7 linked regions of the Homo sapiens genome follow. The protein of the gene in region 7 purifies or fractionates together with the protein of the main gene of each other region. This does not show direct contact. Each region holds a gene or a part of one and is shown on either strand. Other genes may lie near its edges.

What was found.
Region 1: the proteins of ZC3H3 (region 7) and GNL2 purify together in Homo sapiens (affinity purification with mass spectrometry; 3 studies listed by BioGRID and IntAct, with this or other methods). This does not show direct contact.
Region 2: the proteins of ZC3H3 (region 7) and RPL26L1 purify together in Homo sapiens (affinity purification with mass spectrometry; 3 studies listed by BioGRID and IntAct, with this or other methods). This does not show direct contact.
Region 3: the proteins of ZC3H3 (region 7) and TRUB2 purify together in Homo sapiens (affinity purification with mass spectrometry; 3 studies listed by BioGRID and IntAct, with this or other methods). This does not show direct contact.
Region 4: the proteins of ZC3H3 (region 7) and PTCD1 purify together in Homo sapiens (affinity purification with mass spectrometry; 3 studies listed by BioGRID and IntAct, with this or other methods). This does not show direct contact.
Region 5: the proteins of ZC3H3 (region 7) and MALSU1 purify together in Homo sapiens (affinity purification with mass spectrometry; 3 studies listed by BioGRID and IntAct, with this or other methods). This does not show direct contact.
Region 6: the proteins of ZC3H3 (region 7) and MRPS35 purify together in Homo sapiens (affinity purification with mass spectrometry; 3 studies listed by BioGRID and IntAct, with this or other methods). This does not show direct contact.

The regions. Positions count from the first base shown.
Region 1 is NC_000001.11:37,582,438-37,585,937, forward strand, and holds part of GNL2 (nucleolar GTP-binding protein 2), read right to left. Parts: intron 1,497-3,500; coding exon 1,430-1,496; intron 500-1,429; coding exon 341-499; intron 1-340. UniProt on the Homo sapiens protein: GTPase that associates with pre-60S ribosomal subunits in the nucleolus and is required for their nuclear export and maturation.
Region 2 is NC_000005.10:172,965,924-172,969,423, forward strand, and holds part of RPL26L1 (ribosomal protein uL24-like), read left to right. Parts: intron 1-2,535; coding exon 2,536-2,676; intron 2,677-3,489; coding exon 3,490-3,500.
Region 3 is NC_000009.12:128,315,948-128,319,447, reverse strand, and holds part of TRUB2 (pseudouridylate synthase TRUB2, mitochondrial), read left to right. Parts: intron 1-2,221; coding exon 2,222-2,296; intron 2,297-2,548; exon of another isoform or gene 2,549-3,500. UniProt on the Homo sapiens protein: Minor enzyme contributing to the isomerization of uridine to pseudouridine (pseudouridylation) of specific mitochondrial mRNAs (mt-mRNAs) such as COXI and COXIII mt-mRNAs.
Region 4 is NC_000007.14:99,428,799-99,432,298, forward strand, and holds part of PTCD1 (pentatricopeptide repeat-containing protein 1, mitochondrial), read right to left. Parts: intron 1,009-3,500; coding exon 790-1,008; intron 407-789; coding exon 305-406; intron 1-304. Other genes in the region: ATP5MF-PTCD1 (ATP5J2-PTCD1 fusion protein), read right to left, coding at 305-406, 790-1,008. UniProt on the Homo sapiens protein: Mitochondrial protein implicated in negative regulation of leucine tRNA levels, as well as negative regulation of mitochondria-encoded proteins and COX activity. Also affects the 3'-processing of mitochondrial tRNAs.
Region 5 is NC_000007.14:23,302,339-23,305,838, reverse strand, and holds part of MALSU1 (mitochondrial assembly of ribosomal large subunit protein 1), read right to left. Parts: intron 1-3,500. UniProt on the Homo sapiens protein: Required for normal mitochondrial ribosome function and mitochondrial translation. May play a role in ribosome biogenesis by preventing premature association of the 28S and 39S ribosomal subunits.
Region 6 is NC_000012.12:27,724,332-27,727,831, reverse strand, and holds part of MRPS35 (small ribosomal subunit protein mS35 isoform 1 precursor), read right to left. Parts: intron 2,256-3,500; coding exon of another isoform or gene 2,247-2,255; exon of another isoform or gene 1-2,246.
Region 7 is NC_000008.11:143,468,448-143,471,947, forward strand, and holds part of ZC3H3 (zinc finger CCCH domain-containing protein 3), read right to left. Parts: intron 213-3,500; coding exon 170-212; intron 94-169; coding exon 1-93. UniProt on the Homo sapiens protein: Required for the export of polyadenylated mRNAs from the nucleus. Enhances ACVR1B-induced SMAD-dependent transcription. Binds to single-stranded DNA but not to double-stranded DNA in vitro. Involved in RNA cleavage.

The sequences.
Region 1 (3,500 bases), on a different chromosome or scaffold from region 7:
TTGTCTAAGGAAAATGTTAGCTATAATTCTTTGAAATGTTTTTTCCAAGTATAACAGTTAATGCTTTGTTCTTCTGTCTTATAAATACAAAACAATATTCCAAAAAATGTCTTCATTGTTACTAAATGCAATTAATGGAGCATAATGTGAAGCAGGCAGTGGCCTCAGAAGCCGTCTCCTGGTGCCTCTGCCCACTATCAATGAGCACACTTTCGTGTTTCCAATGAGAGCACTCCCATTACTACAATCTCAGCCGGACAACACTTTAGCCTAAAAGCCCTACAACTGACTTACTAACAGATGTCTTAATAGTCTATTCTGGTTTAGTAGTTGTACTTACTGTTGCCCAGGTTGGAACAAGGTCACATTTGTTAAGTACAAAAATGAGGTGTTTCCAAGGTTTTTCCTTCTTCAGGTAAGTTTCAATGTGAGGGGAACGAGTACCCATTGGATCTCTAGCATCAAGAACTTGAACTACAACATCTGATGAATCTATCACCTGAAAATTCAGAAAGGCAAAAATGGTTTGCTACAGTACAAATAAAAGAGGGATGACATTTAAGGGAGTCTGGGAAAAATAAAATAATAATATTTAGAGACAACTTCAAAACAGTCTCTGGGCAGAGTTCGTTGTGGCTAATCTCAAGGCCCAGTGATCAGAATTCAAAAGGTTTTTCATCCTGTGGCTTTTGAAACCTGCTGAATTTAAAACAGAAAAACTAGCTTAGATGAAACTCAACTTATTTCCTAACTACTATGGATTATTGAACTAAATCATTTACTTCTTAGACTTCTTTAAGTTTGTAATATTATCTTTAAGTTTGTAATATTATAGGTTTTGTGTATTTCACAAAAAACTACAAAGTTTAGCTTGCCTTCACGGTACTAGTTTCCTATCATGTTACTATTTAATTACGTGATTATACTTGAAAATTTTTCTTCTGAAGGTTATTATTAGTGCATGGACATAAACCTCTGCCGGTTAAAGATCACTGGATCAGAAATCAAGATATACAAAGCCTCCTTCACTAACAAGCTAGTCGAGCTAGGTACAGCATTAAACCTTTCTAGACAGGAGTCCTCATCGATAAAAGGAGAGGGGTGGACTAAATAACTTAAAATGTTGCATGTGACTTTAACTAGGCATGATAAATTTGGCAGGAAATCTTAAAAAATACTGACAGGTAATAAATATGTGATTGTATAATAAAAGATAGCTGTTACTCTTATACAAGTACTTTAAAAAATGCAGTTACCTAGATCAATGGTAGTACGCCTTCCGAGTTTCTTTGTAGGAGGAAGAGGATGGAACAGGCAGTGGTGCCTGTACTCTGCGCAACAGAGCTTCAATATATCAAAATTAGTTTTCTTCTACAAAATCATGAAAGCCCAAGGAACCACTCAATGGGAGAGAATTTAGGAGTCTTACCTTGTAGAGCTCACCCCATATTCTTTTGGACTGTCCCTTTTTATAGATCTCTTCTTGAGCTTCATTTCTAAATAAGAAAGCACCCCAAATGAGCAACTGAAGCACCATCAAGACTAAAAGGATGCTTTAGGGTAAAGTCAATGTACCAAAAAAAACAGTATCAAACCCAGTTGGAGATGGACCAGAAACAAACTGAATTTAAAAAGTGTGCCCAAATGTCTGTCAACAAATAAATGGATAAACACAATGTGGCACATATATACACAAGATAGCATTCAACTTTAAAAAAGAAGGAAATTCCAGCTGGCTCAGTGGCTCACACCTGTAATTCCAGCACTTTGGGAGGCCAAGGAGGGCAGACTGCTTGAGCCCAGGAGTTCGAGACCAGCCTGGGCAACATGGCAAAACCCCATCTCCACAAAAAATACAAAAATTAGCTGGGCATAGTGGTGCATGCCTGTAATCCCAGCTACTGGGGAGACTGGGGTGGGAGAACTCCTTGAGCCCAGGAGGTTGAGGCTGCAGTGAGCCATGAGCAGGCTACTGCTCCAGCCTGGGTGACAGAGCAAGACCCTGTCTCAAAAAATAATTAATTAAAAAAAAAAAAAAAAGAAGAAGAAAATTCTGACACCTGCTACAACACGAATGAACCTTGAAGACATTATGCTAAGTGAAATAAGCCAGACACAAAAGGACAAATACTGTATGATTCCACTTATATTAGGCACCTAAACCAGTCAAATTCATGAGAGAGAAAGTAGAATGTTGTTACCAGGGGCTGGGGGAGAGGGGAAACGGACCGTTAGTGTTAAATGGGTACAGGGTTTCAGTTTGGGATGATGAAAAAGTTCTGGAGATGGATAGCTGCAATGATTGCACAACAATGTAAATGAACTTAGTATCACTAAACTGTACACTTGAAAATGGTTAGAAGAGCTGGGCACAGTGGCTCACACTTGTAATCCCAGCACTTTGGGAGGCTGAGGCAGTGGATCATAAGGCCAGGAGTTCGAGACCAGCCTGACCAACATGGTGAAACCCTGTCTCTACTAAAAATACAAAAAAATTAGCCAGACGTGGTGGCGGGCACCTGTAATCCCAGCCACTCGGGAGGCTGAGGCTGGAGAATCGCTTGAACCCGGGAGGCAGAGATTGCAGTGAGCCGAGATCACATCAAATGGTTAGAAGAGTACTTTTTTTTTTTTTTTTTTGAGACGGAGTCTCGCTCTGTCGCCCAGGCTGGAATGAGTGGTGCGATCTTGGCTCACTGCAACCTCCGCCTCCCGGGTTTAAGCGATTCCCCAGCCTCAGCCTCCCAAGTAGCTGGTACTACAGGTGTGCGCCCCTGCGTCCAGCTAATTTGTGTATTTTTAGTAGGGACTGGGTTTCACCATGTTGGTCAGGCTGGTCTCAAACTACTGACCTCAGGTGATCCGCCCGCCTCAGCCTCCCAAAGTGCTAGCATTACAGGTGTGAGCCACTGCGTCTGGCCACATTTTTTGTTACATATATTTTACCACAATAAAACATTAAACTAAAAAAAAGCATGACTGAATTAGGCAGTATGTCACAGAGAATTACAAAATGGAATTGGCAGGACCTGAATCACAACCTATACTCCATAGCTCCCATATACAGCAGTATTTTTCTGATAAGGTTTAGAATCTGTTTATTTACTAGTCTCTAGGACATTTACCCAAGGTAAACAAAAATAGTTTTGTCTTTACTGCATTACCTACTATACCTGTTGCGGAAGGAAAAATTCAAATCGGCAGAATACAAAGCCAACGAAAGTTCAAATAATTCTAAGAACAAATAAATGAACTCACTGCCTCTTTTTGCTTGGCCTCAAATGGCTTGACATTTTATCTCTAGGTGGCCCAATGCTTGAAGATGGGCTGACAATAGCAATGAGGTAATAACACTGATGCAGTCAAAGGACAATGCCTCTTCACTAAGACAGCAAAACCTCCACTTCATTTAAGAGACATGAGATGGACGAGAATGAGAGCTTTCTAGCACTGCCCAAGGGAAATGAAATTAAACCCTTTCTCAAGAGCAATGTGGCAGC
Region 2 (3,500 bases), on a different chromosome or scaffold from region 7:
CCTAAAATACGGGGCTTCCCCTATGATCTCTGCATCTGGCAATGGCATTGCCATCCACCTGGTTGCCCAAGCCAGACTCTGAGTATCATCCTTCCCTCTTCATCCTCACCTCTCCAGTCTAGTCGACCAGCCGACTTAGTCTTATCCTGTCTCCTGTCTTCCTCTTCACTATGTCCAGAGGTTGTCCACTTCTCTTTTTAAAAATTTTTTAAATTAATTTTTTATTTTATTTTATTTTGAGACAGGATCTCACTCTGTCACCCAGGCTGGAGTACAGTGGTGCAAAAACAGGTTGCTGCAGACTCAACCTCCTGGGTTCAAGTGATCCTCCCACCTCAGCCTCCCGAGTAGCTGGGATCATAGGCGCATGCCACCATGTCTGGCTAACTATTTTTTTTTTTTTTTTTTTTTTTTTTTTTGTAGAGACGGGGTCTTGCTATGTTGCCTCGGCTGGTCTCCAACTCCTGGACTCAAGCAGTCCACCTGCCTGAGCTTCCTAAAGTACCAGGATTACAGCTGTGAGCCACCATGCCCGGCCTAAGATCTTTCTTCAGTCTTGGCCAGGTGCAGTGGCTCACACATGTAATCCCAGCACTTTGGAAGGCCAAGGTGGGTGGATCTCTTGAGCTCAGGTGTTTGAGACCAGCCTGGGCAGCATAGTGAAACCCTGTCTCTTAAAAAAAGTGTGTATGTGTGTATTTCTTCAGTCTTGATGGTATTAACAAGACTTCTTCCAGGTGTGTCCTGAGAGTCTCTGGTCATGTAGTCTGTGGTAGATTTTTCACTGAGATATGATTGTCCTCTTCAACCTAAAAATCGCCTTGGAAAATAAGCCAAACAAGCTATACGTAGACATTTTAGGAGTATTGGGGTTCTCTAGTTCTTTATATGTGGTATCTCCTCTATGCTTATTAATCAGAGTCACATCGTACCTGGTGGTTTTTTTTTTTTGAGGCGGTGTCTCGCTCTGTCGCCAGCCTGGAGTGCAGTGGCACCATCTCAGCTCACTGCAACCTCCGCCTTCCAGGTTCAAGTGATTCTCCTGCCTCAGCCCCCCGAGTAGCTGGGTCTACAGGCGCCCACCACCACGCCCAGCTAATTTTTGTATTTTTAGTAGAGACAGGGTTTCACCATGTTGGCCTGGATGGTCTCGATCTCTTGACCTCATGATCCACCGGCTTTGGCCTCCCAAAGTGCTGGGATTACAGGTGTGAACCACCGTGCCCGGCCCCCATGCATGGTGTTTAATAAGCTCTTGTGGCTGGGCATGGTGGCTCACACCTGTAATCCCAGCACTTTGGGAGGCCGAGGCAGGCAGATCACTTGAGGTCAGGAGTTCGAGACCAGCCTGGCCAATATGGCGAAACCTGGTCTCTACTAAAAATACAAAAATTAGCCAGGCCTGCTGGTGCGTGCCTATAATCCCAGCTACTTGGGAGGCTGAGGCAGGAGAATCACTTGAACCTGGGAGGTGGAGGTTGCAGTGAGCCAAGATCATGCCAGTGCCCTCCAGCCTGGGGGAACAGAGCGAGACTCCGTGTCAAAAATAAATAAATAAATAAATAAGCTCTTGCTTTCAAGGAAACCCTAATCTAGTTGGTTTTTGAATAGAGTAGATTTTTAGTACAGTAAAACAGTCTGTGAGATTTAAAATTTTTTTTCTGACTTTAAAATATTTGTATTAAATGTAGAAATGTTGAAATTTAGAAGAATATAAATCTAAAAATCAGTCATCTGTAATCCTGCTTCCTGCCTAATGGCAGCTGTTACCAATATTTATATATATATTTTATCCCACTGTGTCATGCTATATATATGAAATGTGTGTGTATATATACATATATACACATATATACGTATGTATACACATATATGTATATATGACATATAAGTACATATATGTATGTATGACATATATGTATGTTACATATAAGTACATATGTGTATGTATATGATACGTGTATGTATATATGACATATAAATACATATACGCACATATGTAATATATATTATATATATACACACACACATACACTCATATAGTTTGAGTATCTCAAATTCAGAATGCTCCAAAATCTGAGACTTTGTCAACGTGATGGTCAAAGGAAGTGTTCTTTGGAGCTTTTGGGATTTCAGATTTTCAGATTTGGGGTGCTTAGCTAGTAATGCAGATATTCCAAAATCCCAAAAACCCTAAATCCAAAACACTTCTGGTCTCAAGCATTTCGAATAAGGGATACTTGACATATATATGTATATATATATAGTTCAGAGTATATTCTATATGTAGTTTTGTATTCTCCTTTTTCCTCTAAAGCTCATATCGCACATTTCTGTGGGATCCAGGTAAAAAATCTCCACCCAACCATAGCACAACACAGATTTATATCAGAAAAGTAGCTAATTTTTGACTGCCAGGATTAAGCTGCTTTTGACAAAGTTATATGTTTAGCCCATGTGTTCCTGATGGTTAGCTTCCTCTTTATGATCATGCACTACAAATGGAGGGGGATTCTCTTTTGTATTTTCTCTTAGGTAGTTCGAGGACACTACAAAGGTCAGCAAATTGGCAAGGTAGTCCAGGTGTACAGAAAGAAATATGTCATCTACATCGAGCGGGTGCAGCGTGAGAAGGCCAACGGCACAACTGTCCACGTGGGCATTCACCCAAGCAAGGTATGGTCAAGGACTGAGTGGCAGTAGCAGCCATGGAGTGTGTCAATACTGTTCAAAGTTATTGGTGTTTTGGTACTCCCTGCACAGTTGGCTGAGGCAGGCCAGGTGGACTTGATTGATTCAGTAGCTTTGTGATATCATCAAGGATCCAGATTTTTCTTCTCTTCTCTTTTCTGTTTTGCCTTTCTTGGTGATGGCTGTGTCTTTTTTTTTTTTTTTTTTTTTTTGAGACGGATGCTCGCTCTGTCACCAGGCTGGAGTGCTGTGGTGCGATCTCGGCTCACTGCAACCTCCACCTCCTGGGTTCAAGCAATTCTCCTGCCTCAGCCTCCCAAGTAGCTGGGACTACAGGCACACACCACCACGCCCAGCTAATTTTTATATTTTTAATAGAGATGGGGTTTCACCATGTTGGCCAGGATGGTCTCGATCTCCTGACCTCGTGATCCGCCCGCCTCGGCTTTCCAAAGTGTTGGGATTACAGGTGTGAGCCATCATGGCCGGCCGATGGCTGTGTCTTTAAGCTGGTTGCAAGAGGCTTCCAAGTGTTCTAGGCATCACTTCCCCTACCACATAATATTCAGAGGAATAAGAGAGAATATATCTTCCTGTAGCCCTCATGCCTACCTAGTGGAACATGCTATTTTTCCTTTGTGTTCCTATTTTGTATTGTGTTACAGGGTCTGTTTTCCTTCCAGAGTTTCAGTTCCTTAAAAGCTGAATGGCTGAGGTCTTACTTAACTTATGATGTCTATATTGCTCAATAGCTGGTGGGGATGCAGAAATAAAGACCTGTTTTCTCACTCCCAACAGGTGGTTATCAC
Region 3 (3,500 bases), on a different chromosome or scaffold from region 7:
GAGATCTCGGCTCACTGAAACCTCTGCCTCCTGAGTTCAAGCAGTCTTCTCACCTAAGCCTCCCGAGTAGCTGGGACTACAGGCACAGGCCACTATGCCTGGCTAATTTTTTTTTTTTTTTTGAGACGGAGTCATGCTCTGTTGCCCAGGCTGGAGTGCAGTGGCACGATCTCGGCTCACTGCAAGCTTCTCCTCCTGGGTTCACGCCATTCTCCTGCCTCAGCCTCCCGAGTAGCTGGGACTACAGGCGCCCGCCACCACGCCCAGCTAATTTTTTGTATTTTTAGTAGAGACGGGGTTTCACCATGTTAGGCAGGATAGTCTCGATCTCCTGACCTCGTGATCCACCCGCCTCGGCCTCCCAAAGTGCTGGGATTACAGGTGTGAGCCACCACGCCCGGCCATGCCTGGCTAATTTTTGTATTTTTTGTAGAGATGGGGTTTTGTCACGTTGCCCATGCTAGTATTGAACTCCTGGGCTCAAGTGATCTGCCTGCCTCGGCGTCTCAAAGTGCTGGGATTATAAGCGTGAGCCCTTGCAACTGGTCTCTTGATTTATTTTGAACCACTGAAAAATGCAAAAACCATTCTTAACTCATAGGCCACAAAAAACAAGCCAGATGCGGTGGCTCATTCATGTAATCCCAGCACTTTGGGAGGCCGAGGCAGGCGGATCACTTGAGGTCAAGAGTTCAAGACCAGCCTGGCCAACATGATGAAACTCCGTCTCTACTAAAAATACAAAAAATTAGCTAGGTATGGAGGCAGGTGCCTGTAATCCTAGCTACTCAGGAGGCTGAGGCATGAGAATCGCTTGAATCTGGGAGGTGGAGGTTGCAGTGAGTTGAGATGGCGCCACTGCACTCCAGCCTGGGTGACAAAGTGAGACTCCATCTCAAAACAAAACAAAACAAAACAAGCAAACACACACACACAAAAAAAAAACAGTCTTCAGTCTTCAGGTTTGACTTGTGGACTGTAGTTTGCTGACCCTTTTTCTATTCTGGGACTCCAGGTGAGAAATGAGACCCTAGGTAGAAGTCCTAAGGTAGGGGTTTTGGGTTTCTGGGAAAGAATAAGTTTATTTATTTATTTATTTGACAGAGTCTTGCTCTGTTGCCCAGGCTGGAGTCTGGAGTGCAGTGGTGTGATCTCAGCTCACTGCAACCTCCATCTCCCAGGTTCAAGCTATTCTCTTGCCTCAGCCTCCCAAGTAGCTGGGATTACAGGTGTGTGCCACCACACCCAGCTAATTTTTGTATTTTTAGTAGAGATGGGGTTTCACCATGTTGGCCAGGCTGGTCTCGAACTCCTGACCTCAGGTGATCCGCCCACCTTGGCCTCCCAAAGTGCTGGGATTACAGGTGTGAGCCACTGCGCCCAGCCGAAAGAGTGATTTTTTTACTGAATAAAGTTGCCCAACAATGGAACTGGTTCTGGTAATGTGTCCCCATCACTAGATGTGATTAAGGCATGTGTCAGGGAATCTAGAGGTTTGACCAGAAACCTCAAAAACCCGTTGGACTTGTGATATTCAATGACTCTATTATATGGTAACAATAAGAAGTATAATGTATTGAGTCGCCACTCTGTACTAGGCATTGTGTTAAGCTTCCCCCAAGTACAATCCTCATTGATATCACCACAGTGCTGTGAGATGGGTCCTATTTTCATTTCACAAGGGAGAAAACTGAGGCTCAGTGTTGACATTTAGTAACATGGCCTGGATTCAATAGGCCCTTAACTACCCTGGACTCTTCCCCTAGATTCCTCTTAATCTGTAGAAGTGTAAACACTTCTGGCTCATTCCTGCATTTATTCTTTCAGTAGTTCTTTCCTGAGCAGCTAGTGAGTTGACACACCCAGGTTCTGCCTTAAGGAGCTCACAGCCTCCATTTTCCTCCAGGGACTCTTCCTCAGTAGAGCTGGGCAGGGAACCCCGCACTCTTGACCTTCAGTGTTACGCCAGTCTTCTTAGAGCCTCTCACTGGGAGACTGATGATAGGCAGAGTAAGAGGCATCTTGGGCTGCCCTTTGGATCCCAGGGCACTGAGGATACAGTTCAGGGTCCCAGATTCCATGACGGGGAAGCCTGAGAGTCTGGCCTGATGCTAGTTTGGGCTCCATGAGGCCCATTCTGAGAACGAGGTCAACATGCAGCCCAAAGCCATCCTGGGGTGGCATTTAGTTGAGAAAATGGACCTTGTTTGTTTCTTTCCAGTATGTGGACCAGCATTCGCCCATCTCAAGGTTGGCGTGGGACATCGGTTGGATGCCCAGGCTTCTGGAGTACTTGGTAGGTGATGTGAGAAGCCTGGGGGTACAGTGATAAGGCTTGAGAAAAGATCCTGAAGCTACCAGGAGCCCAGCCCACTTCTTACCTGGCACCCACGTCCCACCACTCCTCTCCTGCCCTGATTCCTGCCCCAAGGCTGATCAGCTGGGGAGTGGATAGGTGGGACGGAGGTAATCACAGGTTAATACCACAGTCACCCACCTTTATTCAGTGATTCCCACACATGACATAGTTCGAGGCCCTTTATGCACATTTATTTACCACAACAACTTTATTAGGTAGATACTATATGATTTTATGGAAGAAGAAAGTAGGATTTAGGTGACTTGTTCTGGGTCCCATGGCCAGTGAATACCCCTGGTCCGGAGAAGGAAAACCATCATTGCATCATGGGGCAGCCAGGCGCGTGACTCTGGACCTAATGGCCAGGGCCTGCATGTGGCTGGGTCTGGACACACAAAGCCCTAGTCATGAGCCATCTGTGTCCCCAGGGTCAGGTGGTGCCCACATCCTCCAGCCGCGACAGTCACAGTCCCCTTGTCTTGCTTCCTGAGGCACAGGCAGGCAGACATGATCTCATGCCCCCTCTCCCTGTTCTGTCTCCCCACGAGTGAATGCAGAGTTATTCTGTCCCTCAGCCAGAGGGAGAAACAGACCGGGAGAAAGGCAGGAAGTGACCACAGTGGCCACCGTTTATTGGGCCCTTCCTCTGTGCCGACTGCACAGCACCCACAGGAATCAGTATTTTTTTTTTTTCCTGAGACAGAGTCTTGCTCTGTCTCCCAGGCTGGAGTGCAATGGCATGATCTCGGCTCACTGGAACCTCCGCCTCCTGGGTTCAAGCAATTCTCCCTGCCTTAGCCTCCCGAGTAGGTGGGATTACAGGTGCCCGCCACCACGCCTGGCTAATTTTTTTTTTTTTTTTTTGTGAGACGGAGTCTCACTCTTGTTGCCCAAGCTGGAGTGTAGTGTAGCACCACACCTGGTTAATTTTGTATTTTTTGGTAGAGATGGGGTTTCACCATGTTGGCCAAGCTGGTCTCAAACTCCTGACCTCAGGTGATCCACCTGCCTCGGCCTCCCAAAGTTCTGGGATTACAGGCATGAGCCACTGCGCCTGGCCTTCAGACAGTATTTTTACCCCCATTTTACTGATGGGGAACTTGACGCTCAAAGAGGCTAAAGATTATACTCAGAGCTGTCC
Region 4 (3,500 bases), on a different chromosome or scaffold from region 7:
TGTGGGAGGGTTGAACAAGTCCCCAGGTGAGTGTGTGGCAGGCTTTCAAGGAAGGTGAGTTTAGAGGGGCTAAGCCGACTGCAAAGCAGGGTGGGAGGGGCGGGGGCCACCCTCATTCCATCTCCAAGGGCCTCCTCTCCCTGCCATCTGTAGAATGGAGGCTACAGTGGCTGCTGGGTTTTCAGAAAAGAGCACAGATATAAAAATACTCAGCACAGGGCCATCGTGGGTGCTCACAGGATCACCATTTTGCACCTCTGGCACCGGGGAAGCAGGGCAGGAAGGTGGGGTGGGAGGGACATACCTGGAGGGCGTACCGGAAGCCTGTCTTCTTGTCTTGGATGCAGCCCATGAGCAGGAAACTGAAGGTCTCCTCTGTGACCACGTGCCCTTTGTGGATGATTTCCTGGGGGAGGGAACAAAGACGTCCCACTGAGAACCTGCAGCAGGCTGGGCATGGTAGCTCATGTCTGTAATCCTGGCACATTGGGAGGCCAAGGCAGGATGATCACTTGAGGCCAGGAGTTTTGTGACCAGCCTGGGCAACATAGCAAGACCCTGTCTCTAGGAAGCCTTCCCTCGAGTGCACAAAGCAGGACACAGCACACGGTGGCATACACAATCTCCAGTAAGGTCTCATCAGATCCATCTGTGAACCCCAGGGCCCAATACCGGCTGTCTCATCCTCCCTAAGCCTTCCTACATGAGGAGAGACAGACACCACAGCCCTGCCCCTGACACGTGGGACCAGCCCCATGAAGGGGAGCAGGACGGCAGGGGAAGCCCCACCTTGAACACATCGAGGCACATCCTAAGGTCTGCGCACTTGGCAGCCATCTTCAGCAGCGCGTGGTATGTTTTCAAGTTGAGCTCGAAGTTTTTGGCCTGCAGCTGCTGCCGGAGCTTCAGGGCGCTCTGTAGAGCTGAGTCCTTCCAGGGGGACTCGGCACAGACGTTGAACAGGGCCGTGTAGGTGGCGTCCGAGGGCTCCAGGTCCCGCTTTTTCATCTGTGGAGATGGAAGAAGCTCAGTGGTGGCCCGGGATCAGCTGGACGCACAGGTGAGCAGCTGCCCCAGAGGAGGCTGAGGCTGGAGAGGACCCCGTCACTGCATCCACCAGGCCAGGCTCTAAGGCAGAGCCATGGACACATCAGAGCCCAGCTCTCCAAACTCAGACACATTGAAGGGACTCTGAAAACTGAGCCCACACACCCAGATGTACCAAACAGGAGCTACCCTGCCCTGGGCACTTGTCAGCCCACTCCAGGCCTGGGGTCCTGGCAGCAAGGTCTTCCTGATGTCCCCACCTTCAGGCCACCCCGTCAAGGGGAAAGGGCCTGTAGTGCTTACTACCTGAGGGCTCCCGGGCAAGTTAGCACTTCCTCGCGAAAATGGGGATGACACCATCACCTTGAAACCAGGCATGCCTGTGGCAAGTGGGAGGATGCACTGCAGTGCTCTAGGGGTGGCCCCGAACCAGTGGCACAATGCACATTCTCAGGGCCACCTGATCTGGTAAGTCACAAGCCCCGGAGCTGAGTGACACTCAGCTTACTGAGCCTCCAGGGGACTAAGGCATGTGCTCAGGGTTGACAATCCGTGGTGAAGCCTAGCACTCGCTATTGGCCAGAGAAGGGCCATCTGGACAAAGGCAGGCGATAGGCAGCTCAGCGGCAGAAAGAACCCTGCTAGAGTCAGGCCATCTGGGGCTCAAATCCCAGCCCCGGTGCATTCAAGTGGGGTGGCCTTGGACATGTCCCTTCATCTCTCTGTGCCTCAGTTTCCTTATCTGAAAAGCAAAGAGGGCAGTCCCTACTTTGAGGATGATGTAAGCTCTGCGTGTATTGCTGCACTCCACAGAGGTGCACTGACAACTCACTACCTGCCCAGCAGCAGCCCTGGGGTTAGCAGAGCGGGCACAGCCTATCCTTACTGAGCTTACACTCAAGAAGGGAGACACACTGCAGGTGAGTCACCAAAAACAGTAACAAGGCTGGGTGCCGTGGCTCACGCCTATAATCCCAGCACTTTGGAAGGCTGAGGTGGGCAGATCACCTGAGGTCAGGAGTTCGAGACCAGCCTGGCCAACATGGCGAAACCCCGTCTTCTACAAAAAACACAAAAAAATTAGCCAGGCATGGTGGTGGGCGCCTTTAATCCCAGCTACTCGGGAGGCTGAGGCAGGAGAATTGCTTGAACCTGGGAGGTGGAGGTTGCATTGAGCCGAGGTCGCACCACTGCACTCCAGCCAGGGTGACAGAGCCAAAACTCCCGTCTCAAAAAAATAAATAAATAAAATAAAATAAATAAAAACAATAAAAATATTAGTTTTTTTTCTTTTTTTTTGAGATGGAGTCTTACTCTGTCGCCAGGCTAGAGTGCAGTGGCGTGATCTCGGCTCACTACGACCTCCCTCCACTTCCTGGGTTCAAGTGATTCCCTTGCCTCAGCCTCCTGAGTAGCTGGGACTACAGGTACGTGCCACCACGCCCAGCTAAATTTTGTATTTTTAGTAGAGACAGGGTTTCACCATGTTGGCCAGGATGGTCTCAATCTCTTGACCTCGTGATCCGCCCACTTTGGGCTCCCAAAATGGTGGGATTACAGGTGTGAGCCACCGCACCTGGCCAAAAATAATAGTTTTTTAAAATAGATGTAATGGGCTGGGTGCGGTGGCTCACGCCTGTAATTCTAGCACTTTGGGAGGCCAAGGCGGGTGGACCACTTGAGGTCAAGAGACCAGCCTGGCCAACATGGTGAAATGCTGTCTCTACTAAAAATACAAACAAAATGAGCCAGGCATGGTGGCATGTGCGCCTGTAGTCCCAGCTACTCGGGAGGCTGAGGTATGAGAACTGCTCGAGCCCAGGAGGCGGAGGTTCCAGTGAGCCGAGGTCGCACCACTGCACTCCAGCCTGGGCGACAGAGCGAGACTCTGTCTCCAAAAAAAAAGGACTGTAGGAAAAAGAAAGAGAGATCAGACTGTTACTGTGTCTATGTAGAAAGAAGTAGACACAAGAAACTCCATTTTGTTCTGTACTAAGAGAAATTCTTCTGCCTTGAGATGCTGTTAAACTGTAACCCTAGCCCCAACCCTGTGCTTGCAGAGACATGAGCTGTGTTGACTCAAGGTTTAATGGATTTAGGGCTGTGCAGGGTGTGCTTTGTTAAAAAAGTGCTTGAAGGCAGTAGGCTTGATAAAAGTCATCGCCATTCTCCAATCTCGAGTACCCAGGGACACAATACACTGCGGAAGGCCGCAGGGACCTCTGCCCAGGAAAGCCAGGTATTGTCCAAGGTTTCTCCCCATGTGATAGCCTGAGATATGGCCTCGTGGGAAGGGAAAGACCTGACTGTCTCCCAGCCTGTCCCCCAGCCCGACGCCCATAAAGGGTCTGTGCTGAGGAGGGTTAGTGAAAGAGGAAGGCCTCTTTGCAGTTGAGATAAGAGGAAGGCATCTGTCTCCTGCTCGTCCCTGGGAATGGAATGTCTTGGGTGTA
Region 5 (3,500 bases), on a different chromosome or scaffold from region 7:
CAGATGCCAGTAAATGGAAAGATACTTCATATTCATGGATGGGAAGACAATATTGTAAAGATGCCAATACTACCCAATGCAGTCTACAGATTCAGTGCAATCTATATCAAGATCACAATATTTTTTGAAGAAACAGAAAAATCCAACCTAAACTTTATGTGGGGCCAGACACGGTGGCTCACACCTGTAATCCCAGCCCTTTGGGAGGCCAAGGCGGGTGCATCACCTGAGGTTAGGAGTTTAAGACCAGCCTAGCCAAAATGGTGAAACCTCATCTCTACTAAAAATACAAAAAATTAGCTGGGCATGGTGGCGGGCACCTGTAACCTCAGCTACTTGGGAGGCTGAGGCAGGAGAATTGCTTGAATCTGTGAGCCGAGATTGTGCCACTGTACTACAGCCTGGGCAACAAAAGCGAAACTCCATCTCAAAAAAAAAAAAAAAATTATATGGACTCTCAAGGAACCCCAAATAGCCAAAACAATCTTGTAAAAGAACAAAGTTGGAGTCTCATATTTCTTGATTTCAAAACTTAGAACAAAGCTATGGTAAACAAAACAGTCTGAAACTGGCAAAAAGACAGACGCACAGACTGATGAAACAGAATACAGAGCCCAGAAATAAACCCTTGTGCCTATGGTCAAATGATTTTCAACAATGGAGCCAAGACCATTCAATGCACAAAGGACAGTCCTTCCAACAAACGTTGCTGAGGAAATGTCCACATGGAAAACTAACCGCCTACAAAAACTAACTCAAAATGGGTTAAATATCTAAACAGGAGACTTAAAACTATAAAACTCTTAGAAGAAAATAGGGAAAACATGATACTGGTTTGGCAATTATTTATTAGATATAATACCAAAGACACAGGCAACAGAAGAAAAAATAAACTGAACTTCACCAAAATTAAATACTTTCGTGCATCAAAGGACACTCTAAAGAGTAAAAAGGCAACCCACAGAATGGCAGAAAACATCTGCAAATCACATATTTGATAAGGGATTAATATCCAGAATATATAGAGAGCTCCTACAACTCAACAACAAAACAACAAACAACCTGATTTTAAAATGGGCAAAGAGTCTGGGCAATATAGTGAGACCCTGTCTCTATAAAAAATAAATTAGCTGGGCACTGTGGAGTAACTCCTACCATTCTACTTTCTGTCTCTATGAATTTGACTACTCCTACTCCTCTAGTCCTAGCAACTTGGGAGGCTGAGGTGAGAGGATCACTCGAGCCCAGAAGTTCCAGGCTGCAGTGAGCTATGACCACACCACTGCACTGAAGCCTGGGCAACAAAGTGAGACACTGTCTCTTTAAAACAAACAAAAAAGCAAAGGACTTTTCTTCAAAGAATATATACAAATGGCCAATAAGCAAAAGAAAATATGCTCAACATCACTAATCCTTAGGGAAATACAAATAAAAACCACAATGAGATATCACGTCATGCCCATTAGGATGGCTATTACCAAAATGAGAAAATAAGTTGTTGATGAGGATGTGAAGACTGGAAACTCTGCACTGCTAGAGAAATGTAAAGTGGTGTAGCCACTATGAAAGAATACAGGAGCTCCTCAAAAAATTAAAAACATTCAGCTTTGTGCTAGGCTGGTGAACAGAAAAAAAATTAAAAACAGAATCACTATATGATCCAGCAATCCCATTTCTTTGCACATACCCCAAAGCATTAAAAGCAAGGACATAAACAATTTTTTTTTTTTTTGAGACTGAGTTTCGCTCTTGTTGCCCAGGCTGGAGAGCAGTGGCACAATCTCGGCTCACTGCAACCTCCACCTCCCAGGTTCAAGCGATTCTCGTGCCTCAGCCTCCCAAGTAGCTGGGATTACAGGAACCCTCCACCACACCCAGCTAATTATTGTATTTTTAATAGAGACAGGGTTTCACCATTTTGGCCAGGCTGGTCTTGAACTCCTAACCTCAGGTGAACTACCCGCCTTGGCCTCCCAAAGTGCTGGGATTACAAGTGTGAACCCAGCCTTTTTTTTTTTTTTTTTTCTTTTGAGACAGCGTCTTGCTCTGTCACCCAGGGTGGAGTGCAGTAGTACAATCTTGGCTCACTGCAGCCTCAAGCTCCTGGGCTCAAGCAATCCTCCACCTCAGCATTCCAAGTAGCTGGGACTACAGGCACACACCACCAAGCCCAGCCAATTTTTTATTTTATTTTTTGTCTTTTTTGTAGAGATGGAGTTTCACCATGTTGCCCAGGCTGGTTTCAAACTTCTGAGCTCAAGCAATCCGCCCACCTTGGCCTCTCAAAATGCTGGGATTACAGGCATGAGCCACTGCGCCCAGCCTCATGAACAGTATTTCTATACTCATATTTATACCAGCATTATTCACAATAGCCAAAAGGTGGAAGCAATCTAAGTGTCCATCAATGAATAAGGGGATAAACAAAATGTGGTATATACGTAAGATAGAGTATTATTCAGCCTTAAGAAAGAAGGAAATTCTGGCACATGCTACTACATGGATGAACCTTGAAGACATTATGCTAAGTCAGATAAGTCGGTCACAAATCTATGATTCTACTTTTATGAGATACTGAAAAGTAGTCAAATTCATAGAGACAGGCAGTAGAATGGTAGCTGCCTACGGAAGGAGAAATGGGGAGTTATTGTTTAATGAGTTCAGAGTTTCGTTTTTGCAAAATGAAAAAATTTCTGGAGACGGATGGTGGTAATGATTGTAAGTCAATGTGAAGGTACTTAAAGCTACTGAACAACACAGTTTAAAATTGTTAAATGGGCTGGGCACAGTGGCTCATGCCTGTAATCCCAGCACTTTGGGAGGCCGAGGTGGTCAGGAGTTTGAGACCAGCCTGACCAACATGGTGAAACCCCATCTCTACTAAAAATAGAAAAATCAGCCAAGCGTGGTGGTGGGTGCCTATAATCCCACCTACTCAGGAGGCTTAGGCCGGAGAATCACTTGAACTCGGGAGGCGGAGACTGCAGTGAGCTGAGATCGAGCCACTGCACTCCAGCCTGGGCGACAGAGCGAGACTCTTGTCTCCAAAAAAAAGATTAAACGGTAGGTTTTACGTTATATATATTTTACCACAAACAACAAAACTTTCTTGCCTTTGCATTTCTCTCATCTAAAATCTTTGTAAAGGCAATTTCTATTTCTTTATTCTTTCACAGAAACTTCTCTGTAAAACCTCCCATTCTTTTTACATCCGCAAGTCCAATGGTCACTAAGTCTTCTGACTCCATCCCACTATTACATCTGATAGAGACCCTGGTATGCTGTCTTTGTATATCTCTTCTTTATGCTTTCCTAGTTCTCTCCCTATCTCTCCAATTACCCTGTTTTTGGCATCTTCTTCTGCTCTGTCATGTACCAGGGTTTTGTGTATAGGCCCCACCTTTTTATTTTACAACCTTTCTCTATACAATTTTGGCTACTCTTTTGGTCTTAACTGCCTCCTCTATGACCAATTCTCAACAGACTAAGACTAAGAAAGG
Region 6 (3,500 bases), on a different chromosome or scaffold from region 7:
ATTTACAAGCGTTCCTGGAACCAATCCCAAACAGATACTGAGGAACAACTGTATGATAATTAACAAACAATAGGTCATAGATCTAAATGTAAGAGCTAAAACTATAAAACTTTTAGGAGGAAACACAAGAGTGAATCTTTTATGACCTTGAATAAGACAATGATTTCTTACATATGACACCAAAAGCACAAGAAACAAAAGGAAAAATACTGTCATACGCCACTTAACAATATTTTTTGACAAAGACATGGCTAGGTGATTTTGTCATGTACAAACATCATTATGTATTTACACAATCCTAGGTGGTACAGCCTACTACACACCTAGACTACATGGTATAGTCAATTGCTCCTTGGCTACAAACCTGTGTAGCATGTTACTGTTAAATACTGTAACAACTGTAACAAAATTGTACTTGTGTATTTAAACATATCTAAACATAGAAAAAGTGCAGTGAAAATACAGTATTATAATCTCTTGGGACCACTGTTGTGTATGTGTTTATCACTGACCACAACATCATTATGCAGCACATGACTTACATAAATTGGACTTCATCAAAATTAAAACTTCTGTGCTTAAAAGGCTCACGCCTCTAATCCCAGCATTTTGGGAGGCTGAGGCAGGCAGATCACAAGGTCAGGAGATCGAGACCATCCTGGCTAACACGGTGAAAACCCCATCTCTACTAAAAATACAAAAAATTAGCCAGGCGTGGTGGCGGGTGCCTGTAGTTCTAGCTACTCGGGAGGCTGAGGCAGGAGAATGCTGTGAACCCAGGAGGCGGAGCTTGCAGTGAGCTGAGATCGAGCCACTGCACTCCAGCCTGGGTGACAGAGTGAGACTCCGTCTCAAAAAAAAAAAAAAAAAAGGACATCATCAAGAAAGTAAGAGGACAACCCAAAGAATGGAAGAAAATGTTTACAAATCATATATCTGAGAAGGGACTGGGACTGGTGTCCAGAATATATAAAATACACTTATAACTCAACAATCGAAAGATAAACAACCCAATTAAAAAACAGGCAAAGGATATGAACAGACATTTCTCCAAACATATACAAATAGTCAACAAGCACATGAAAAGATGGTTATTAGGGAGACACAAATCAAAACTACAATGATACTTTCATACCTATCAGAATGGCTAAAACTAAAGGACAGGTAATAACCATTAGTGAGGATGTGGAGAAATAGAAAGCCTCAAACTTGCTGGTGAAATTGTAAAATAGTGAAGCCACTTTGAAATTGTTTTTCAAAAACAGTTTGGCAGTTCCTCAAAATGTTAAATATGGAGGTGCCATGCAACTCAGTCATTCCACTGCTAGGTATATACCCAAGAGAATGGAAAACACATATCTACACAAAAACCTGTATGTGAATGTTCAACAGCATTATTCATCCAAAAAGTAGACACAACCCAAATGTCCACCAATTAATGAATGGATAAATAAAATGTGGTATATTCATAAAATAAAATATTTGGCAATAAAAAGAAATGATAAAATAATACATGCTACAACAGATGAAACCTATTGAAAACATTACACTAAGTGAAAGAAAACATATTGCATGGTTCCATTTCTGTAACACATCAAGAATAGGTAAATCCAGAGACAAAAAGTAGATTAGTGGCTAAAAGGGGCTTGAGGATGGTTAAGGGGGGAATTCTATAGCAAGTGAACTATGTCTCAATAAAGCCATTATTAAAAAGAAACAACGGCCCTGTAGTGGTGGCTCACATCTGTAATCCCAGCACTTTGGGAGCCCAAGGCAGGCAGATCGCCTGAGTCCAGGAATTTGAGACCAGCCTGGGCATCATGGCAAAACCCTGTCTCTACAAAAATTCAAAAAAATTGGCCAGGCATGGTGGCACACTCCTGCAGTTCCAGCTACTGCTCAGGAGGCTGAGATGGGAGAATCACTTGAGCCCGGATGGAAGAGACTGCAGTGAGCCAAGATCGCGCCACTGCACTTCAGCCTGGGTGACAGGGTAAGACCCTGTCTCAAAAAAAAAAAAAAAAAAAAAAAAAGGTATACAAGGAATCAATACACCACCAAAATGAGCAAATGACAAAAAATACATGTTTTGCAAAGGAATAAATCCTCAACCTCACTAGTATTCAAAGACATACAAATTTTAAATATAAGACAAATTTTTTACCTATCAAGTTGACAGGTAATATGTAGGTTGGTGAGAGCACAGGAAAGCAGGCCTTCTCACATTCTGCTGGGATTATATTTTTTTACATTTCCTGCAGGAATTTTATAATATATATCAACAAACTTCAAGAGCTATATCCTTTGACCTCATAGTTCTCCTTTCAGGAAGTTATCTTAGGAACATCATTAGAAATACATACAAATATTAATACCTAAGAATATTCATTAAAATATTTTTCTAATAAAGAAAACCATTAAAAAGCCTAAAGGTTCCATAATACAGATAAATTATGGTAGCCCTGTATTATGAAATTATTTATATATCACACTTCAGTCTCAGAAAAAAGGCTAAGTTTGAAGTGATCAACATTACACCCCCAGATTCAAACACTGTCTTGGTACATAACAATCTCTCATTTATACGTTATTCTATGCAGCCATTAAAATTAAATTAGATTGGGTGCAGTGGCTCACACCTGTAATTCCAGTGCTTTGGGAGGCGGAAGTGGGAAGATCACTTGAGCCAGGAGTTCAAGAAAAGCTGGGCAACAAAGTGAGATCCTGTATCTACAAAAAATTTAAGAAAATGGGCTGGGCAGTGTCTCACACCTGTAGTCCCAGCCACTTTGGAGGCTGAGGCAGGACAATCAATTGAACCCAGAAATTGGAGGCCACATTGAGCTATGTTAGTGCCACTACTCTCTGCCTGTCAGATCTCATCTCAAAAAAATTCAAATTAAATTAAAGAATGTTTAATATTATTGGGAAATGTTTAATTCTTGTTAAGAGACTGCTGAACACATACAGTATCATCCCATTAATATACACAAAGGCAGGCTGTGACTATATACTAAAATGAGCTACTATAGTTAACAGTGGTTACAAATAGTAGATTTACGGGCAATTTTGTAATTTTTTTTTTTTCCGAGATGGAATCTCGCTCTGTCACCCAGGTTGGAGTGCAGTGGAGCGATCTCAGCTCACTGCAACCTCTGCCTCCCGGGTTCAAGCAATTCTCCTGCCTCAGCCTCCGGAGTAGATGGGATTACAGGTGCCCACCACCACGCCCAGCTAATTTTTGTATTTTTAGTAGAGACGGGGTTTCACCATGTTGGCCAGGCTGGTCTTGAACTCCTGACCTCAGGTGATCCGCCTGACTCGGCCTCCCAAAGTGCTGGGATTACAGGCAGGAGCCACCATGCCTGGTGTATAATTTGAAACTTGTATTTTCCAAAATTTCTGTGAAAAATATTACAGTTTTATAATCACACATATCAATTTCTTTCTTTATTTTTAGAGATAGGTTCTTGCTATGTTGCCCAGGCTGGCGTCAAATT
Region 7 (3,500 bases):
CCGAAGCGGTTGTAGTACATGCAGTACTCCTTCCTCTTCTCCCTGCGCTGCCGCGCCTGCCGGATGATGGCCAGGCTGCGCTGCACTGCCCGGCTGCAGACGGGGAGAGAGGTGCGTGAGCCTGAGGGCGAGCAGGGAGCCCACCCACTGCCCAGCCCAAAGGCATTACCTGGCCAGGGAACGGCTACAGCTGCCTGCAGGATCCAGCCGGCCTGTGGGGGAGAGAGGCACGGGTCATAGCAGGCCACAGCCTGGCCCGCACGCCCTTTCCCTGCTGACCCCCTTAGTCGAGGCCCTCAGGGGTCCCAACACTCAGCTCAGGCACAGCCTCCCCTCCAGGAAACTGCCCAGAGCTCCCCTCCCCACAGTGGTTCAGATGCCCTGGGCCCTGCCAGGCCCCTCTGGGGACACAGCACCTGAGAGTGGGGAGCTGCTGGGCCCTGTGTCTAGCTCCTCTCCAGGGCAGGGTCCGGGCAGGGCTCCTGTCCCTGCCCTCAGAGCCAGCAAAGCCAGGCAGCACCCGCGGAGGGCTTGGCCACGTGGGCTGGAGACGCCCGCCTGTCCCTGCTGCCTCCCTGGCCAGGCTCCCCAGGGCCACGCTTTGCTGGCTGGAACCCCCCTGCTGGCTTCCTCATGTCCCTGGGTGCCCACCCTGGGCCAAGGCAGTGACTGGCCTATGGACACTGCTCCTGGCTCTCTCCTCAGCCCTGGCCACCCAGGAAGCTGCCCTGTAAACAGAACAGCTGCTAACAGCAGCACCTCCCTCTGCCAGGGCCTGGGCTGGCAGGACCCGCGGGGTCACTTAGACCAGGGGGTGAATATGGCCCATGGGGCACACATGGTCTGGCCTTTTGGGAGCAAGAATGGCTTCTGACTTTTAGAGGGCTATAAAACTAAAGACATGCAGCAGAGAAGGTGTGGGGGCAAAGCCCGCTTGGCGGAGGCATCTGCCCAGCTGCCCACTGCAGCTGTGGAGGTCTGGGGGAAGGGCACCTGTCCCTGAAGCCCTGGGCTGGCGCTGGCAGATCCTGGCTAGTGTCTGTTACTCTAAATTTTAGAGGTGCCTCATCAGATGCTCCTCAAAACCCCAAGCATAAGCACCACCCCCGCCTTTCTGAAACCGCACACCACGGCCTGGGAGGGCGGCCTGGGAGTGCGGTGGTGGCAGGAAGGAAATGGACCTTGGGGCTGGACATGGCCGAGTGCTGCCAGGCCTGAGAGCCAAGGGGATGAGGCGGGGAGGGGGTGCCATCTGGAGGAGGAGGGTCTGCTCCGGTGACACAGCCCTGCCTGCCTTTTACAGACAGAGGTCACCCAGGATCACGGGGTGGGCAGGGCAGGACCAGCCTGCTGAGGGCGGCTTTCCCGGGTTCCTCAAATACGCGCATGATCCTTCCCAGACCAGATCCAATTTCCTACAGGGCAAATGCTGAAATGGACACTGCAGTTAAGAGGCAGAGGTGACATCACTCAGAAATTCTGGGGACCTGAGGTGGTGACAAAGCCATCCTGGTTTAAAAAGGGATGTCCCAAAGCCGCCCAGCCCCAAATAGCCAGACCTGCCCCACTCTTGAGCACCAGAGAGCAGCCTCGTCCTCACTCTCCCAGATGGCCCAGCAGCCGCAGACTCCCACCCGAGGACCCAAGGCTTCCGCTCCCTCGCACCCCCAGGCTGGAGCCCCCCCCACTCCTCGCTTTGTGCTTTGCGTCCAGCCCAGTGCTCCCTAGCTAGGGTCAGTGGTGCTGCTGCCCTTCACCCTCAGGGGCCCTGCCTACTGTCCCCACTCAGCCCGTCTCAAGTTTCAAAAGGGCAGCTCCAGAGCTGAGTGGCCAGCGAGCCCGGCTGGGGCAGGAGCAGGAGCTAGTCATGGTACCTGGGGCAGGAAAGGGGGCGTTGAAGAACGCAGAAACCTGAGGCGTGTGGGGGGCCAGGGGCAAAGGGAGGGTGATGAGGGTCTTGGTGCGGAGGGACCAACGCGGGGGTGCTCAGGGCAGCCCCCGTTCTCAGGCCGGGACCCTTGTCCCCGGGTGGGCAGCAGGGCCCAGTCCAGACGGCACGGGCACGCCCTCACACCTGCCAGCCTGTGGGGTGAGGGACGCGGCAATGCGGCGGTCTGTCGGCACTGCTGGTTCCCAGTCTCTCGCCCAGGCTGCCAGTGACACTGCGACGCCATCTGCTCCAGGCAGGGACACACTGGCATCACGTGCCCGCCTGGCAGGACCGGGTGCAGCAGGAGGGGTTACCTCCCTTTCCACTTTGTGCTCTTTAAAAAAATGCCAGTGTGAGGCTCACGGCAGGAGTTCTGACAAGAACAGGAGGCACTTTTTCAAATGCTTTGCAGTGTTAAAAAATGCACATAAAATAGCTGGCTGGAAAAGAAGCAAGGGCTGCCTGAGAAGTGCTAAAAAGTTCAACTGAATAACCCCCAGCAGCTCCACAGCAGAAGGCGCCATGCATTCCAGAGAACTTTCACTTCCCCGGGATCTTCTCAGAATAGACTCGGCTCCCACCAGCCCCACCCCCTGCTCGGTGCCCCAGTGCCAGCTCTGGGCACCGCTGGATGTCAGGCTCTGCAAGGCAAGCGGGGTGGGGGCCTTGCAGTCAGAGGTTCCTCAGCACCTCCAGGCCCTGCTCCGGCCAGCACCCACTGGACAGCTGCTGCCTGGCCCAAGGGACAACATCCACGATGACCGGGGCACGCAGGCAGCCCCAATTCCCAGGCCAGCACTCTCCCAAGAAGTTAGGCAGGGCTGCGCCAAGCCCTGGTCTGCTCACAGCGCGCCCACCAGGCCCTCCAGGGCACGTCCGTCTGGCACATGGAGGCTGTGCCCTTGGGAGAAGGCAGCCAGCGGCAGAGGGTGCCCCAGAAGAGGCAGTGTGGGGCGGGGGCAAGCCGACAGGGCCTTCGTCACCCCAGGGAGGGTGGGCAGGTGACCAGCAGGGGAGGCGCAGAGGCCGGACGTGCCAGGAACACGCAGCAGCTGGCCCACAGCAGGGAGGGCCACGGCCACAGGTGGCTGGGGGCTTTGGGGACACAGAACAAGCCAAGGCCAGCCCTGTGGCCAGAGACTGGGGCCTCTGCCCCACCACAGGAGCCATCAGGCTCATGGTGGCCACATATGGGCCATGCTCACTGGGGGCCCACACAGGATTCTGTGGGGAGGGACCCTGGAGCTCAGGCCTTCAGGTGGCAGGCGGGCCCAGGAGGGAGGGCTCGGCTTCAGGGACTGGGGAAGCTGGGGGTAGAAGCCATACTGTCCTCTGCCGTCAGGGGCCCAGAGCCCAGGGGGTCAGCCAGGACAGCCACCCCCACCCCTTCCAAGAAGGCTGCTGCACTTTCTTGTTGAAGTCAAATTTCTGCTGACACCAGGGGAGGAAATTTATTTCTTTAATTATTATTCCTCTTAAGTGGGCTGGTCAGCGGTATCCCACAGCTGGGAGCCATCTACCTTCCTCATGGCGAGGCGGGGCCGGTGGTGGCCCAGGCAGCTGGAGCTGT